2 separate regions of the Homo sapiens genome follow, and region 1 is linked to region 2. Evidence: fine-mapped expression QTL. A gene starts in region 2. The other region holds a variant in brackets. All regions are shown on one strand. Distances are between the middles of the regions. Region 1 overlaps ABCB5 (ATP binding cassette subfamily B member 5). Region 2 holds the start of SP8 (Sp8 transcription factor).

What was found. PIP is the estimated chance that this variant, and not a neighbour inherited with it, causes the effect.
Region 1: its variant is fine-mapped to the expression of SP8 in sun-exposed skin (GTEx, PIP 0.92).

Annotation. Positions count from the first base shown.
Region 1 is chr7:20,726,712-20,735,048 of GRCh38, forward strand. ABCB5 (ATP binding cassette subfamily B member 5) reads left to right here. Exons shown (of 28, transcript NM_001163941.2): 22 at 329-429; 23 at 1,604-1,744. Among named protein-coding and RNA genes, the nearest start is that of SP8, 56 kb to the right of the region's middle. The variant C/T (reference allele first, on the strand shown) is at 4,371.
Region 2 is chr7:20,781,960-20,790,296 of GRCh38, forward strand. It overlaps SP8 (Sp8 transcription factor), which reads right to left and starts at 4,927. Exons shown (of 2, transcript NM_182700.6): 1 at 4,819-4,927; 2 at 320-3,836. The coding sequence starts at 4,839. The coding sequence ends at 2,331. RefSeq lists an enhancer at 1,305-1,965.

The sequences.
Region 1 (8,337 bases), 55 kb before region 2:
CTTTGCATGTGAACATAATGCTTACTAATGTTTTATTCTTCTGTCTATGGAACAAGTTTAAATTGAAATTCAGTATAAACTTGAATGGGGTTAAACTTAGATCAGTAGACTAAATCTCAATAAGACATTTTCCTTAAGCTTATCATCCAAAAGTGTCATTTTTCTATCTTATTTTCTGGGAGGAAAGGAAGCTAAGAATATTTGTCAGGAAAACTTACTGACTTGATATACTTAATATGTCCCCAGTGTGAGTGACTAGAATTCACAAATGGGAAAAGATTAACCATTACTAATTTTATTTCTATATTGTATTGTCCTGTTTTATAAGATAGCAACTGAAGCTTTGGAGAATATACGTACTATAGTGTCATTAACAAGGGAAAAAGCCTTCGAGCAAATGTATGAAGAGATGCTTCAGACTCAACACAGGTGATTATAGATTCATACTGACTTCAAAAACTTAATTTTGTTCTGTAAAGGCAGTACTCTCAAATGACTCCAGTGGTTTGCCTGCTAATTCATTTGCTCTTGAGCCTTTCCTAATAATGTCATGTCATAATTTCTCATATGACTTCACCAAGAGAAACTAGAAGAGGAATTGAGGGCAACCACAATTAGAATAAATATTTTAGGTCCTCTCACATTACCATTAACTGTCTGTTACTAAGTATGCACATTTTTCTTATTTTCCTGAAAGAATATTAATGAAATAACATACGCAAGAAAGAAAATAAAATTGCGGGCAGGGCGCTGTGTCTCACACCTGTAATCCCAGCACTTTGGGAGGCTGAGGTGGGCGGATCACTTAAGGTCAACAGTTAGAGACCAGCCTGGACAACATGATGAAACCCCATCTCTACTAAAAATGCAAAAATTAGCTGGGTGTGGTGGTGCACACTTGTAGTCCCAGCTACTTGGAGGCTGAGGCAGGAGAATCACTTGAACCTGGGAGGCAGAGGTTGCAGTGAGCTGAGATCATGCCATTACACTCCAACTCCAGCCTAGGCGACACAGCAAGAGAAAAGAGCTCGGCCCTTTACATTAAATCCCTAAAATAGTTTACATTTTAAATACGAATATATACATAATAAATGCACTTACACTTTTAATTTTAAACTAGTCCTCCTTATCACATTGACTTAGTGATGCTTTTTATATTACTTTAACAGAAAGATAGCTTTTTACTCTTTTGGACTCATACTTGTAGTTGGCACCACCCTTTAATTTCCTCTATTCTGTTAATGAAAGATTGTAATGGAGACTTAGAAAATCCTTCTAAATACCTAAACCAAATCTCTAACTCTTACACTAGCCATCCTTTCACGGGCTTTGCCCATTCATTTAACAGTATATAAAGTTAAATTTGTTATACTGAACTAGAGAGTATATGACTATAGGGAAAAGAATTATAACATTATCTGTCTTTTCTCAAAGAATTCTCAGTAGTAAAAAAAAAAAAATCACTTTCTCTTTCATCATTCGAAAAATGCCTTTCCACCAAATTATAACATTTCAAAGTCCTCTCTATTTATTACTCTACATGTATTCAATTGACCTTGCTATAATTCATGCCTCATTATTTGGTAAATTTTGTACATTCCAGAAATACCTCGAAGAAAGCACAGATTATTGGAAGCTGTTATGCATTCAGCCATGCCTTTATATATTTTGCCTATGCGGCAGGGTTTCGATTTGGAGCCTATTTAATTCAAGCTGGACGAATGACCCCAGAGGGCATGTTCATGTAAGTCGTGGAAATAGTCCGGACCTGGTAGCTCACACCTGTAATTCCAACACTTTGAGAGGCTGAGGCGGGTGGATCACTTGAGGTCAGGAGTTTGAGATCAGCCTGACCAACATAATAAAACCCCATCTCTACTAAAAATACAAAAATTAGCTGGGTGTGGTGGCAGGCTCCTGTAATCCCACCTACTCAGGAGGCTGAGGCAGGAGAATCGATTGAACCCAGGAAATGGAGGCTGCAGTGAGCTGAGATCACGCCACTGCACTCCAGCCTGGGCAACAAAGTGAGACTCTGTCTCAAAATAAATAAATTAATTAATAAGTTGTGGAAATACATAAACCTTGTAAGGGGGTCATGTACTTATTTACCAGAAAGATGTCTAGTTTATAGTGAGTTATCATTTAAATCACATATGTGGAAAAGGTATGCTTGAATTTTTTTTAAGTTGGAATTTTTTTAAATATACACATATTTTTAAATTTTGTATTGATATATAATAGTTACACATATTTTAGGGGTACACATGATATTTTGATATATTCATATGATGTTTAATGATCAAATCAGGGTAATTGGGATGAATTTTATTTTTAATTGACAGACAATAATTGTACATATTATATATTTATGGGGTACAATGGGATGTTCTGATATATGTTAACACTGTGAAATGATTAAATCGAGCTAAGTGTTTTTGTTATTTAGTCTCTATAAGTACAGCATAACTGGTAAAATACTGATACTGATATAAGGCATAAAATCTGAATTAAATTCCCAGATGAATTGCTCTCTGCTTCAGTTTACTGGAACATGGGAATGTGGGGGCAAAATATGCCTTCTTGTCATTCATCCCTTAGGAAATTTGTGAGACATTATGAAACTCTCAGTGTGGAGATGGCTTCCTAAAGTAAGACTGTACATCAGTGAGGATGAATTATTTGCTAAGCAAATAATCCAGAAGAAACACATATAAATGAGTGTTTCCCTTCAAAAATGTCACATTTGGAATTGAATGTGGTGTCCCAGTGAGGCTGCTTCTTCCCAAAGCATTAGGTTGGAGCTCCTATTTTGAAGTTCTGGTCACATAATTATGAATTTATTTGTTTTACCGGAACATCTAATGCAACTGCTAAATTAGAAAAATTAATTTTGAGTATTAATTCTGAGCTGAGAGCCTAAAATATCAGAAATGTTGCTAATCCATCATAAACGTCATTGCTAAGCATTTAGAACTGGAGAAATCCATACAATACTTGACTCAAAAAAGTAACATTATGTTATTTTTAACAAGCCCACCAAAAAATGCACATCCATGCAAGTATCAGCCTCTTCACAATAATGAATTGGGAGATTACACCTGTTACAAGGATGCTGCTATTTGGCAGAACACACTGGGCACTTCTCTTTGGGTTTTGTTTCCCAAGTCTCAGGACATTACTTTGAATATCCTTATTGTTGGCATATTTGTATTTTCAGGATAGGTTCAATTTGAGGAAATGGCCAAAAGACATTTAAACCTAAGTAATTTCAGAATAACTTGGAATAATTTTTAGTTTCTATTCACATGAAAATTTATTTATTTATTAAGCATTAAGTGAAGTCCCAGGAAGTTTCTTTGTTAGGCACTGATAAGAAAACAGTCCAGAGTTCACCAACCCAGTATTCCTAAATCTTACCTGACACCAAAGCCACTTAGAAGTTTCCTGGAAGCAGATTTCCTTATAAAATGGAATATGGAAATGGAATATCTGTATTTAAAATTTCAACAGAAGGGCTGGATGTGGTGGCTCATGCCTCTAATCCCAGCACTTTGGGAGTCCAAGGCAGGTGGATCACCAAAGGTCAGGATTTCGAGACCAGCCTGGACAACCTGTGAAATGCTGTCTGTAGTCAAAATACAAAAATTAGCCATGTATGGCGGTGCATGCCTGTAATCCCAGCTACTTGGGAGGCTGAGGCATGAGAATCACTTGACCCGAGGAGGCAGAGGTTGCAATGAGCCAAGATCACACCACTGCACTCTAGCCTGGATGACAGAGTGAGACTCTGCCTCAAAAAATTTAAAATAAAATTTCAACAGAAATTGCAAGTTCCCTGTCCTATGTTCTCCTAGCCTCTAAAATAGTGTGCACTATTGCCCATGTGAATTTATAAACCACAATTATATTTAGGCTTGGGTTTCATTCTGATTACATAAGACTAATTACTTAGGTAGATTAACAAGAAACAAAATCTGAAATCACATAAATAATTCAGCTCACCAGCCCCCGTGAGCCAGTTTTTCCTTTGTTCTAATATAATCCAGGCACTCCCAAGCTTGAAAGTTGGTTGTAATCCAAAAGTTTGTTTGCAAGCCAATAGTTTGAAACTCAAAACATGTTTTCCTCATGTTGCTCTAAACTTTCCACAGACTTCTTTAATCCCCAGGGCCCCGTTCCTTCTGTATAACTAGTTTTGAGTATTAGTAGAAAGCAAGCCAATTAAACATATTCATACTAATGTACGAGGTTTGATGATTTTCCAAATTCTCACAGAAGAATTTTCATCTGTTTTCATCAATTTCTCTGTCACTACTCTTTCTTTGCTTTGTAATCACACCTATAAAAAAAAATAAGAAGGCCAGGCA[C/T]GGTGGCTCATGCCTGTAGTCCCAACACTTTGGGAGGCAGAGGTGGGTGGATCACAAGGTCAGGAGCTCAAGACTAGCCTGGCCAACATGGTGAAACCCCGTCTCTACTAAAAAATACAAAAATTAGCTGGGCATGGTGGTGGGCGCCTGTAATCCCATCTACTTGGGAGGTGAGGGACAAGAATTGCTTCAACCCCGGAGGTGGAGGTTGCAGTGAGCCGAGATCACACCACTGCACTCCAGCCTGGGCAACAGAGCAAGACTCCAACTCAGGAAAAAAAAAAAAAAATATATATATATATATACATATAAAATTTACTGGATCCTGTTTTTCAGCCAGGACTCTGTGTGTTGGAGGGCTTTAGAGCTCCCAGACCTTTCATCTATTACACTTTCATTAGTGTTCTCATCCAATCTGTCAGTTTTAAATACCACCTGTGTCCTGATAACTTCCTTCTGTATATTTCCAACTCTGACCCTGCCCTGAGCACAAGACCCTTATCCAATTACTTAGGAGACACCTCCACTTGGAGGACTAATATCTCAATGTGTTCAAAACAGAATTTAAGGTGTTTCTCCCCAAAGGTTATCTTCCCCAAGACTTTCCCATCTTAACTAATAACACCAACCACCATCCACACAGTTGTCAGCCCAAAAATGTTGGAGTCATCCCTGTTGCTTCTCTTGCCATTGTCCACCACATAAATCACTGATTCCTCATGACTCTAATTCCAAAATTCTTCTCATCCTCTTCACACTCATCCAAGCCCCTCCCTGTCTTGACTGGACCACTGCAACAACCTCACCAATGTCCTTGTGTCCACTCTTGCTTCCCTATAATCCATTCTCCACACTGCAGCCAGACTGATCATTTAATGCACAAATCCAATAGCACCAGTTTATTAAAATTCTGCAAGATCTAGATCTTCCCACTGAAATTTGAATAAAGCCAAAGTCCTTACCATGACCTGAAAGACCTTCATGATGGGGCTGCTGCGTTGCTTTCCAATTTCATCCACCTCTATCTCCCATGTTAACTACTCATCAGCCCCACACTTGCCATGTCTGTCCCTGGACCTCCCCATTGCAGGGTCTTCACACTTGCTATTCTCTGCCTGGAATGGTCATTCCCCAGGGCTTTGCTAAGCTACCTTTTTCTTACCACTCAGGCTTCCCCTGCTAAGTCCACTCCTCAGAGGGACTTTCACCGATGGTCCAAAGTAGTTCCCCTAACCCTCCCTCCTCATCACTCTCTTTCCCATCACCATATTTTGTTTACAACACTTATGACACTTATGATTCTATGAAATTATATTTTGTGTTTCCATATTTATGAGTGCATAGACTGAGCACAAGTTGTAACCTATCTTGTTCACTGATGTTTCCCAAAAGCCAAAAACAAGTGGGTGGCACATAACAGACACACAATAAATATTTATTGAATGAATGACTGAATCAAAATTAAGGGGGAGATTTGGAATGGTACATAATTAGGCAGTACAGTCATTTCTGGAAATGTGCCTTCGGAGTCACCTTCACACTTTGAAAACAGGAGTCTGTTTTTCACAAATTTTTCTAATTTTCTTCTTTTCTACACCCATATGTCTAATACCAGGTGCTTTGGCAGGAGGACTGGATCTAAATCGAGGGCAACCATTGATATAAAATATGATGTGTGGAATTGAGAATTTACCTGTACCTACTGAGATTTGTTTAGATTAAAGCTAAGAAAAAATTTCTCAGTCGAAGAATGATACAACCTCAAAATCATGCCAGTCACTTTCATGCCTGCAAATGACACCCGTTAGGATGTTTCCTTTAAGGGGCTTTCCAAGACTGCCAACCATTCCATTACTTATGAAAATTGCTATAACGGCAAATCTTGATTGAATCTTTACTCAGTTTTAAGTATTTGCTGTATATTATCTGTTTAATGCTCTAAACTACCCTGTGAAATACTATGGTTCCCATTTTACAGATGAGAACAATTAAGACTCAAAGAGGTTACCTAACTTGCTCAAAGTTACATAATCGGTAAGTAGCAGAGCACAGATTCAAGTTCATGGTTCCAGATTCCAGAGGTTTGGTTTACTCAACGTACATTATTATTATTATTATTATTATTACAAATTCTGTGGCCAAACATTCATAGAATATTTCTGTGAAATTATTTTTTAAATAATTCTTGCTTAGTTTTTCAAACATTCGAGTATTCAAAGTTGGGCTGATTCCTCACATATAAATGGAACAGGTGACCTGCTTAGTGCTATTTTATAGCCCTAAAATATGAGAATGAAAAGTCCCCAATATAAAATTTCTTCCCTGAGCTGGCCTACCATACTTCCTGAATTTCTTTTAATTAAATTCATTAAAAGGGGGTCTCTTCTAGATACATAAGCATTTTAACTATCAGAACATATGAAGGACTGTTAACATAAGAGTAACAATTAAAGAATAGTACCACCTTGGTATTTCCCAGTGCCCCAAGGGAAGGAAGAAATAGAGAGCTATCTGAGCTAGAGCCACTGGTATCACTTTTCTTCTCTTTTCTTTTCTTTTCTTTTTTTTTTTTTTTAAGTTCGAGTCTCGCTCTGTCGCCCATGCTGGAGTGCAGTGGCACGATCTCAGCTCGCCGCAAACTCCGCTTCCTGGATTCAAGCAATTCTCCCACCTCAGCCTCCTGAGTAGTTGGGACTACAGGCACATGTCACCACACCTGGCTAATTTCTGCATGTTTTGGTGGAGACCAGATTTCACCATGTTGGCCAGGCCGGTCTCAAACTCCGGACCTCAAGTGATCCACCTCCCTTAGCCTCCCAAAGTGCTAGGATTACAGGTGTAAGCCACCACACCCAGCCTCACGTTTTGAGTTTCATCCAGTCAGAATACAGACAGAATAAGGGTACCCACACTTTTGGAGTATGGACAAAAGAGAGATTCTCTAGGGATTCTCCTCCAGTATTAAATGTGGTTATTGCCCAAAAGAGCAACATAGCACTATGCATAATGTCAATAGATGAGATTTGTCTTCAACACCAAAGAGGATTTGGTCCTAGAGATCAAATGTGGCCCCAACTACCATGAATGTGTCACAAGCTCCCTTTAGACACACTAAATGATACCTGGCCTAGAAGACTCTGTACCTTCCAGAATCTAGGATGACAGACAGCTTTCAATCTCATCGACTAGCTAAACCAAAGAAATTTACAAAGAAAACTCCCTCCTACTAGAATTCTTCTTAGATAAAAAGCACTTTGAGCCATTCTCTAAACCAATGGTTTTCCAACTCAGCAATCTAGGAGCTGGTTAAAACTGTAGATACCTAGATCTCATCCTGCAAAATCTGATTTGTAGATCTAGTATGGGGCAGGAATCTTCATTTTATCAAACATTCCAGATTACTCCAAGGCATAATTTATAGCTACAAGGATGGATTATCTGTGTCTCTTTCAAAAATGACATTGTGTCTCAGAAAGGGAGATACACAAAGGGAGTTTTAACAGCAAAATTCTTTAATGTGCTCATAATATTAGTTTGTCAGCAAGGCTTTTTAGAGGAAAAAGCCTCTAAAAGAAAAAAAAAGACAACACGCATGTCTTATGGTAGAAGCCGTCTCTATTTCTACTATCCTAGAAGTTTATCTGAAATGAGCATTTAAAATAAGGTGATAACATTTTCATTCTGCCACCTTACAGACAAGGCATAGGGGCGTTTAGAAAATCTCTTGTTTAGGTTCTCATGCACCCATGTGTAGTAAAACACTCACCTCTCCCTTTGTTAGTCCTGGTAACACATTCTATTTGTTATTTCACTATAAATGTGTAGATTTAGATGTACAAAATAAGTTTATTTTATCCTATCTCTTTGTGTTAGTCCCTTTCGGCTGGTTTCCAGCTGACTTGCCTTTTGCAATACCGACCAAGAACCATTCCTAATCAGGAGAGGTTTCTGTAGCCTTCCTTTCCCC
Region 2 (8,337 bases):
GAGACTGAGAAGGAAAGAGAATGGTGAAATTTCTTTGAATTGTGACTTAGTACAAATTTTAAGAGGTCAGTAAATCCTGATGCTATGAGCTAAATCTACTGGTAAATAATCAATTACATTCCTTAGACACTATAATCTTTATCTTGGTAAACAGAGAAAACACAGCTTTGCCAAATAGATCTTTCCATCTAACATCTTAAAGGTAATTATTTAAATATTACCACAAACAAGGATATATTTTGTTTAAATTAGACAATTAACTGAAGATAAAATGCACGTCCATAGTTTAAAAAGGGGAAAAAATACAAATTAACTGGCCTAGTCTTTTATCTGAGTTTATTATACCATTTAAAATATTACAAATAAATCAATTACATTTCATGCATTTAAAATGCAAATCTAAAATGCTCCAGAGAAAGGCTTTTCATTTCAATGTGAAATATCCAAATTATTTCAACATTACAATGAGCAATTAGTTTGCAGAATCTGCAAACATTTAAATGTAGTGTCAGAAGTATTTATTAACAGTTAACAATATTACCTTCAGGAAATACACAAAGGCCAAAGTTAGTCGAGTTTCACTTGGACAATTTATTTAATACATGGGTTTTGGCAGACCACTTATTATGAAATATAGGAGAACTCTCACTTTAACTATGCCTGAACTGCCAGCAAATGCAAATAAGTACATGCTCCATTAAATTAAATGTCATCCAACATTTATCAAATATTGTCTTAGTTACAGCTTGATACCTATCTAAATTCATATTCGAGCAAAACTAGGCCCCGAAAGTGCGTTTGTGGCTCTGCACCTCCAGAAGTGAGTTCAAAAAACCTGCAGCTCATCAGAACTGCAACAATAACTCTTAATATTTTCTTGTGACAAAAAAAAAAAATCAAGTTTACTTCAATATATTTTCAAATATTTACTGGAAGTAATGTACAAGAAAAATACTATACAAAATCGTCTCCTGGACAACTGCACCTCACACCCTTACACTGGCGGAGTTATATTTAATTGGTAACTAATCTAGAACGATTCTCCAGTTGTACAAACCATTAGGTTCAGATATATTTTACAAAGGTTCTTTTTTATTTTCCCTCTTTTGGTATTTAAACTACAGCCTCGTCTGAAATAAACGATAGCTTCTTCACTTGTTTGTAAGTTTAAATCACACACAAAAAAGTTTAACCCTACGATCTTCATGAATTGAGAGAATTTACGAAATTGGTACTATACAATTGACGGCCGGACTAACAAAAAAGATTGGGAGGTTATGTTTGGGAGTGGTGAAAAAACGAGGTAGAAAAGGACAAACATGGAGATAGTTAATCTGGTCTCACCGGAAAGGAGTATTTTTGCATAAGAAAAAAGCACCTACCCTCACCCCCGCCCCCACCCCGTAAGTTAAGTTAATGCAGTCAAAGTAACTTTGGGATCAATATTAGCAGTTTCGAGAGAAAGATTGCTCCCCGTTAGAGGAAAAAACTATTATAGAAGGGAAACCAAATGGAAGGTTGCTATTTTCCCCCTAGTTTTTTTAAAAATAAAATATATGCTATAAAGATGAAAGAAAGCTGCTGCAGCGATTCGACAAGACTGCCCTTTGCTGAAACTTGCATCGGTTCCACCTCAGGGAACAAAGAAAAAGAGGCAGACTGACATTGGGAGATCTAAACTCTACAAACTCTGGGTCTCGGGCTGCCAAAAGTCACCCCCACCAAGCCCCGACAGCCTGAGTAGGACGTCCGGCGATGCCCAGGGGCCTGGCAGGGTGCTCCGAAGCCGAGGTGCTCAGTACAGCGGCTCTGGAACCAAGCAGCCGTCTGCCCGGGCGGCGCTGTTCTGCCCAGGCCTCCAGCCTCTCCCTCTCCACCGCTCCGCTCAGGCTTGTCAGCCGAGCCGCTCCTGCCCGCGCGAGGCCCGCTGTCTACCAGGCACTGGATTAGTCCAGCTCTACCTCCAGTGGCCGTTCCCTCTAAAAGTTACGCCCTTCACAACCTGGGGGGTGGAGGAGGGGAGGACAAGGAAGAGAGAACGAGAAATAAAGGCCCGACGAGGCGCGGGTTCCGGCTGCAACGGGTTCAGGCAGCGTTACCCGTGGAAAGGGAAAGCCAGGGCCCGGGACAGCGATGCGTGTTACTTACTTGTCCATATCCCCTTTACAAAGTTAAGTCACAGAAGGAAGAAGGAAGAGGGGCAGAAACAGAAAGAGACAGAGAGCGAGTCGGATGCAATAGGGAAAGGCTGGAGTTGAAGTCCGGACAGACAGGGCCCAAGAGGACTTGGTGGGAGGAGGTCGGGGAGAGGGGCGGGCGCAGGGTGGGCGTCACTCTAGGCCGTTGCGGTGCCCGGGCTCGGGGGGCTGCAGCAGCTCTGGGGAGTGGCAGGGCGGGCTGCCCGCGGCGCTGTGCTCGCTGTCGGTGTCGCTGCCCTTCTTGCCGCCGCTGCCCGAGCCCGCCGAGCCGCCGCCGCCGCCGCCGCCACTGTGCGTCTTCACGTGCTTGCTGAGGTGGTCGCTGCGCATGAAGCGCTTGTTGCAAACTGGACAGGCGAAGCGCTTCTCGCCGGTGTGGGTCCGCAGGTGCCGCTGCAGCTCGTCGGAGCGCGTGAAGCGCTTGCCGCAGAAAAGCCAGTTGCACACGAAGGGCCGCTCGCCCGTGTGCCAGCGCAGGTGCGCCTTGAGGTGCGAAGTCTTGCCGTACACCTTGCCGCAGCCCGGGATGTGGCAGCTGTGCAGGCCCTTGCGCCGCAAGCTCGCCCCGGCAGGGCCCAGCCGCTCTGCCTCCTGGCAGTTGGGGCAGTCGCAGGTGGCGCGGCCGGAGTAGCGGCGAGCTGAGGAGCGCGGGGAGCCCCCCAGCGGCGCCGAAGGCCCAGCGCTCAACATGGAGCCCCCCGCGCCGGCCAGCGGCGACGGGGCCGAGTCCGGGTAGGAGCCGGGTAGCACTGGCTTGAAGCCGTCCATGAGGTGCTGCCCGGCGGGGCTGAGCAGGTGCGAGGAGGCGCCGCTGCTGAAGGCCGAGTGACTCAGGCCCGAGTAATCCGAGTTGTAGCCTCCGAGCGGCGAGTGCAGCGAGGTTTGGAGCCCCCCGGCGGCAGGGTGCAGCGAGCCGGGCAGCGCAGCCGCGCTGTTCGGGTTCTGCACGTCGATCCAGCCGGCCCCCACGTCCCACCAGCTGGAGGCGCCGGCCGAGCCCACCTCGCCCGCAGCACCCAGGCCCGGGTGCGAGGGCTTAAACCACGACTCGTACGGGTGCGCCATGCCCACCCGCGGGTAGATGCCCTGCAGCCCGTCCACAGAGGTGTGCACCTTGGAGATGAACACCGGCTGGTGGGAGCCGTCCTGCGAGTGCGCGGAGGAGCCGCCGCCGCCGCCCCCGCCGCCGCCGCCGCTGCCCCCGGAAACTCCGGGGGCCTGGAAAACAGAGTAGTCGTTGGCGAAGGGCGAGCTGGAGGCGGCGGCTGCGGCGGCGGCGGCGGCGGCTGCGGCGCTGCTGGAGGTGAGGGAGAAGGCGCTGGAGCCAGGCGAGCCGCCGCAGCTGAACGAGTCGGACACCAGGGCCGCGGCAGCCGCGGCTGCTGCCGCGGCCGCCGCAGCCGCCGAGGACGAGCCGCCGTTCCTGGAGGCCCCGGACACGCCGAAGCTTGAGAGACTGGAACCCACTACGTTGCAGCTGGCGGAAGAAGAGGACGAGGAGCGTTTCCAGGGGTGGAAGCCTTTGCCGAAGGAAGAAGAGCTGTCCGAGAGGGAGGAGGGAGACGGGCTGGGGCTGCCTATCTTATTACAGGTAGCGGCAAGCATGGCCAGAGGAGTCGATCCCAACCTCGGTTCTTCCTGCGAGGAGGAGAGGAGAAGGAGTGGGGGAGGGGAGGTGGGCAAAGGGCCGGTGGGGGAGGAAAGGAAGAAATGTGCATCAGTCCTTCGGTAGCCTCCAAAGCGCCCCACTGCACCCCATCTCTCGCTGCGGCGCGCCGCCACCAACTCACCTGGCACCCCCAACAGCCCCGGCGCCCGGCCGCTTCCTACTCTACAGGAGGGGACAAGTTTGGCTGCCGGCGTCTGATTCGGGAGCAAGCACCACGCTAAAGAAGAGTTTGACAAGTATTCTCACCTAAAACAACACTCTCTTGCACACAAAGCCCCAGACACTTCGTAACAAACAAGCAAAAAGTCCAGATTGGAGAGGAAGGAAGTTTTCTTTGCCGAGAAGCCTGGGGGAAAACCATTGGATTGCTTTTAAGAGCGCTTCCCTGTAATCCGGAGAGCTTTGAAAAACCTGTTCGGGTCCCCAGAAACCCATCCTGGGTTGTTTCTCCCAGGCCAAAAGAAATCAAACTGTAGGGCTCACTCTTTCTTCCTGCTTTTCTTTCTTTCTTTTTTTAAAAGCATATCTACAGTAGTAAAAACGAGACGAGTTCAACGTACCTGCGAGACAAGGCGGGCTGCAGAATTTTTTTTTAAGGGTTAGGGGAAGAATCTGCACTTTGCCCAGAAGGAAAAACTTGCTCTCTTTACCCCCGAAATCGGTGCCTGTAAAATGGGCTGGACGCAGGTCTCCCGGGCAGGGAGCAGCGAGGCGCTGCGCGGTGGCTTGTCTAAATGCCCTTCGAACCTTTTCCTGCGCTGAAAAAAAGTGACTCTGCCCCCTTCTCCCCCTTTTTCTTTTCTCCAAACTCACTTGTATTTAAAGAAAAAAAAAAAAAGCTCTCAATAGAGAGACTGATAGCCCGTGGCCTGGCCGGGGCGACTTTAACCCCCTCCAATCGGCAATAAAAGGAAACTAATTAAACCAGCAAGAGAAAATCCTGAGACTCACCCCTAGAAGTGAAGTTGCCATCACACAAAAGTGCCCTCCTCCTCTCAGAGGATCTTTTTTATATTGATAAATCAGAGGCAGTGTTTTTTTTAGAGGTGTGCAATACAATGATCAGTTCCGCCCATTCCACCACAATTGTAGCTCCCTCTCCGGCTTTGAAGTGCCGCGGAGGCGCGGCCAGCCAATCTGCGGCCTCGCCGGGCCGCGCGGCGCGCGCGCCGTGAGGTCATCGGCGCCGCCGCCTGCCGCCGTGGTGGAAGGGGGAGTGGGAGCGGAGGGGGCGGGGGCGGCTGCGTGTGTTACAAAGCGCAAAGCGCGCGCTCGCGTGTATGAGTGTGTGTGTAACAATGTAACTGTGTGCGAGTGTGACCAGGCGTAGGAGAGGACAGTGCGGAGACTGGAGGGAGGGGGGATGGGGGTGTGACACCGTAACAGTGACAGTGTGGTAAAGGCGGGGAGTGGAGAGAGTGCAGAAAAGGGAGGGTTGTGTGATAAGATAACTGCGTGTGCGACAAAGCGGGGTAGAGGGACAGAGCAGTTAAGTGTTGGGAAGGGTGTGAGTGTACGGTAGTGTAACTGACAAACCTAGGGAGGGAAGAGGGACTCAACTGGGTGGGGGGTGAGTGTGTTTGGTGTTGGGGGAGAAGGAGGGCTGTGAACATGTGTATTTGTGCGACAGAGAAGAGGGAAGGGTGTGTGTGGGCGCTTGTGTTGTGTGCGCGCACCAAAGCTGGTAGTGGGGAATGGGAACAATGCAATAAAGTGTGTGTTTGTAAGAGAGAGACTGTCGAGCTGAAGAGAGAAACCGACTAAGTTGATGGAGGCTGAGTGAATAAATATTCACAAACGCTGCCCCTGTCGCCAACTTCCTTTGGCTCCTTGTACCTAAAATCTTGAGTGATTTTTTTTTCTTAACTTGGTAAACAGCGTCACTACATTTTTGAAGAAGATCTTTAAACCCACCTTTTCTTTCCCGGCTCTCCAACGAAATAGTAGAAAGGTTGAGAGGCTAAGGGTTATTTTTAGGGATGCGTTGGGACGTGGATGCGCGCCTGCGCGCCCATGAGTTGTTTCTTTGATGCCGTGGCTTTTTTTTTTTTTTTTTTTTTTTTTTTCCCTGAGGTGGAATTCTGCTTTAGAAGTGCACGTCTCACTCTAGGGGAGGAGGTGTGTGTGTCCCGTGGTGTTGAGTAAATTTCAATACAAAAGGATTAGATAGAGAAGAGAGTAAGCGAGGGTCGTTTTTTCTTTGGGTAAGAAATTGAAGAGCGTTTTACGGAATTTAGAAATTTTCACAGAAAACCTCACTGCCTCTTTCTGAGAAAAGAATCAGGACTTTGATCGAAATATATGGGTTCTATTTATCTAAGAATAGAGAGGAGCTTTTGACAAATCTTGGACATTTATCCAGGCGTCAGTGTCTAATGGCGATTGGGCCAGAGATCTGTCTATGAGTGTGTGTGCATGTTAATAGATACACTTAGTTCAAATTCGGTGGGGTTTAGTCATTTGCTTGCCATTTGTGTTATTAGTTGCCTTCAGAAATGCCATTACAATTTCACTGCCACCACAAGGGAACTTAAACCGCAGAAAGCACAACACCAGTGTAGCAAAAAGTCCAGTCTTTGTAGCCCTATTGAATATTCATAAGTTATAAAAACAGTTCATATTTTTAACCAGTTACAAGTGCTCTCAGAAGTCTAATTTTAAAATGGAATTAACTAAAATGTGACTAGCTGGGCGAACTGTTTTGTTTTGACTGGGAAAACATTTTTATTTTACTGTTGTGTTTGAACCCCCCTCAAGGATTTCACAGCTTCTAGGGATGTCAAAAAATCTTCCTAGGGTTTACAAAATTTCGAAGTCAAGTTGTATCGTGTAAATTTCATTGAGCAGAGTTGAAACTGATGTTTGTGGTGTGAGAGTGTACATTTCTGACCCTTTTTTAAACGCTGTGGGGATATTGACTGTACATCATATCTATTGATTAAGGGGGTAAGGTATACTCTCATACTTTGAAGTAAGTGTGAAGTAAATTAATGAACTGCTTTCTTTCTCTGAGGGCTGACGCTTACCATAAATGTCGTGTTTCTCCCTGCAAGCCGCTCTGAATGATTTTAGCGTGTTGAGAAGGCGTGACAGGCCAGCCCAGAAGGAGGAAGGGGTGGGGGAAGGAGGGTACTCCGTTTAACAAATAAAAGAGAATTAACTTCATTGCTTTGGTCTCCTTCTTTAATGATATTCATTTTAAGGGCCTAATATACAGTTGTTCAGATTTGGGGTTTAATTCTAATCAATACCATCATCCTCAAAGGTGGAGAAAAACAGCTTTGAGGGGAGGCTCCCATCTATGAATAGTTATTTATTTTATCTTTTTATCCTCCTATCTTCTGGAAGGAAGTGAGGCAGGACTATTAAAAAGTTAAATGCTGATACTGAGAGTAAACAGAGGCGTTAACACTGTTTCCTCAAAAATGCCAGGAATTAGAAAAACCCAGCGTCATGTGACTGCAGTTTTGAGCTACCTAATTCTAAGATTTTTCAAGTGTATAAATTAACTTTAGAATCATATGTCATTCTTCCTATAAGTCACAACGTTGGTGTGGATTTAATGAAAATACTGGATTCTTCAGTTTGTGTAAGATTGGCTTGCAGCATTTGGGGATTTCCACAAAGGTGTGTATGTGCAACTTTCTTCATTATATATATGTATATATATTTTTTATTAGAAATATATGTATATTCCACTTACTTTCATATAAAAAGTGAGCTATTTCTTTCATAGTAGCATTGGTCAAAGGGCATTTTTTTCTTGTACCACCCTTCTTTCACTCCCTCCCCAAAAGAAATGGCTAGTGTTTGTGACATGAGGCATAAGGCAGCTGTGTTAAAAAGAAAAGACAAAGAGAATTATATAATTGACCAAAAATTTTAGCAGTCATAATTTTGCATCTAAATATGCTTGAAACTAGACTTAATGACAGCTCTTTCTCCACTTTGGAGAAGTGACCCAATCATTCTTAAATCCTGTCCCATAGGAGAGAACATCTGTAATCCATTGTTGATATAGCCTGCCTGGCAAAGCATTTCAGGGTGCATACACTTCGGTTTAACTTTTACGATATTGATTATTACTCTTGAGTATTATATTGTGATAATATAGATGTTTGAAAAAGAGGGGGAAGAAAAATAGGAAGTACAGGCTTTCTAACATTAATTAAAAGTTTCTCCACCCCATATGAAGTTTAATGTGCTGGCAGGAAGAGGGGTAGATGGATATTCTGCTGTTTCTTGCAAACCTGTGGGATCCACTATCAATAAAGCTAAAATCTATTAGCATTCTGTATGCATCTGCAGCATAAATTTCATTTGAATTTCAAATTTAATAAACTAGGAGGTTTTTAATCATCCCTGGTTTTATTTGTTTGATATTAACATGCTTATTGACCGGGTCTGGTGACCAGTTTGATCATTACAGGACAGCAAAAAGTTAATTAAAACGACCACAGCCCCTTAATC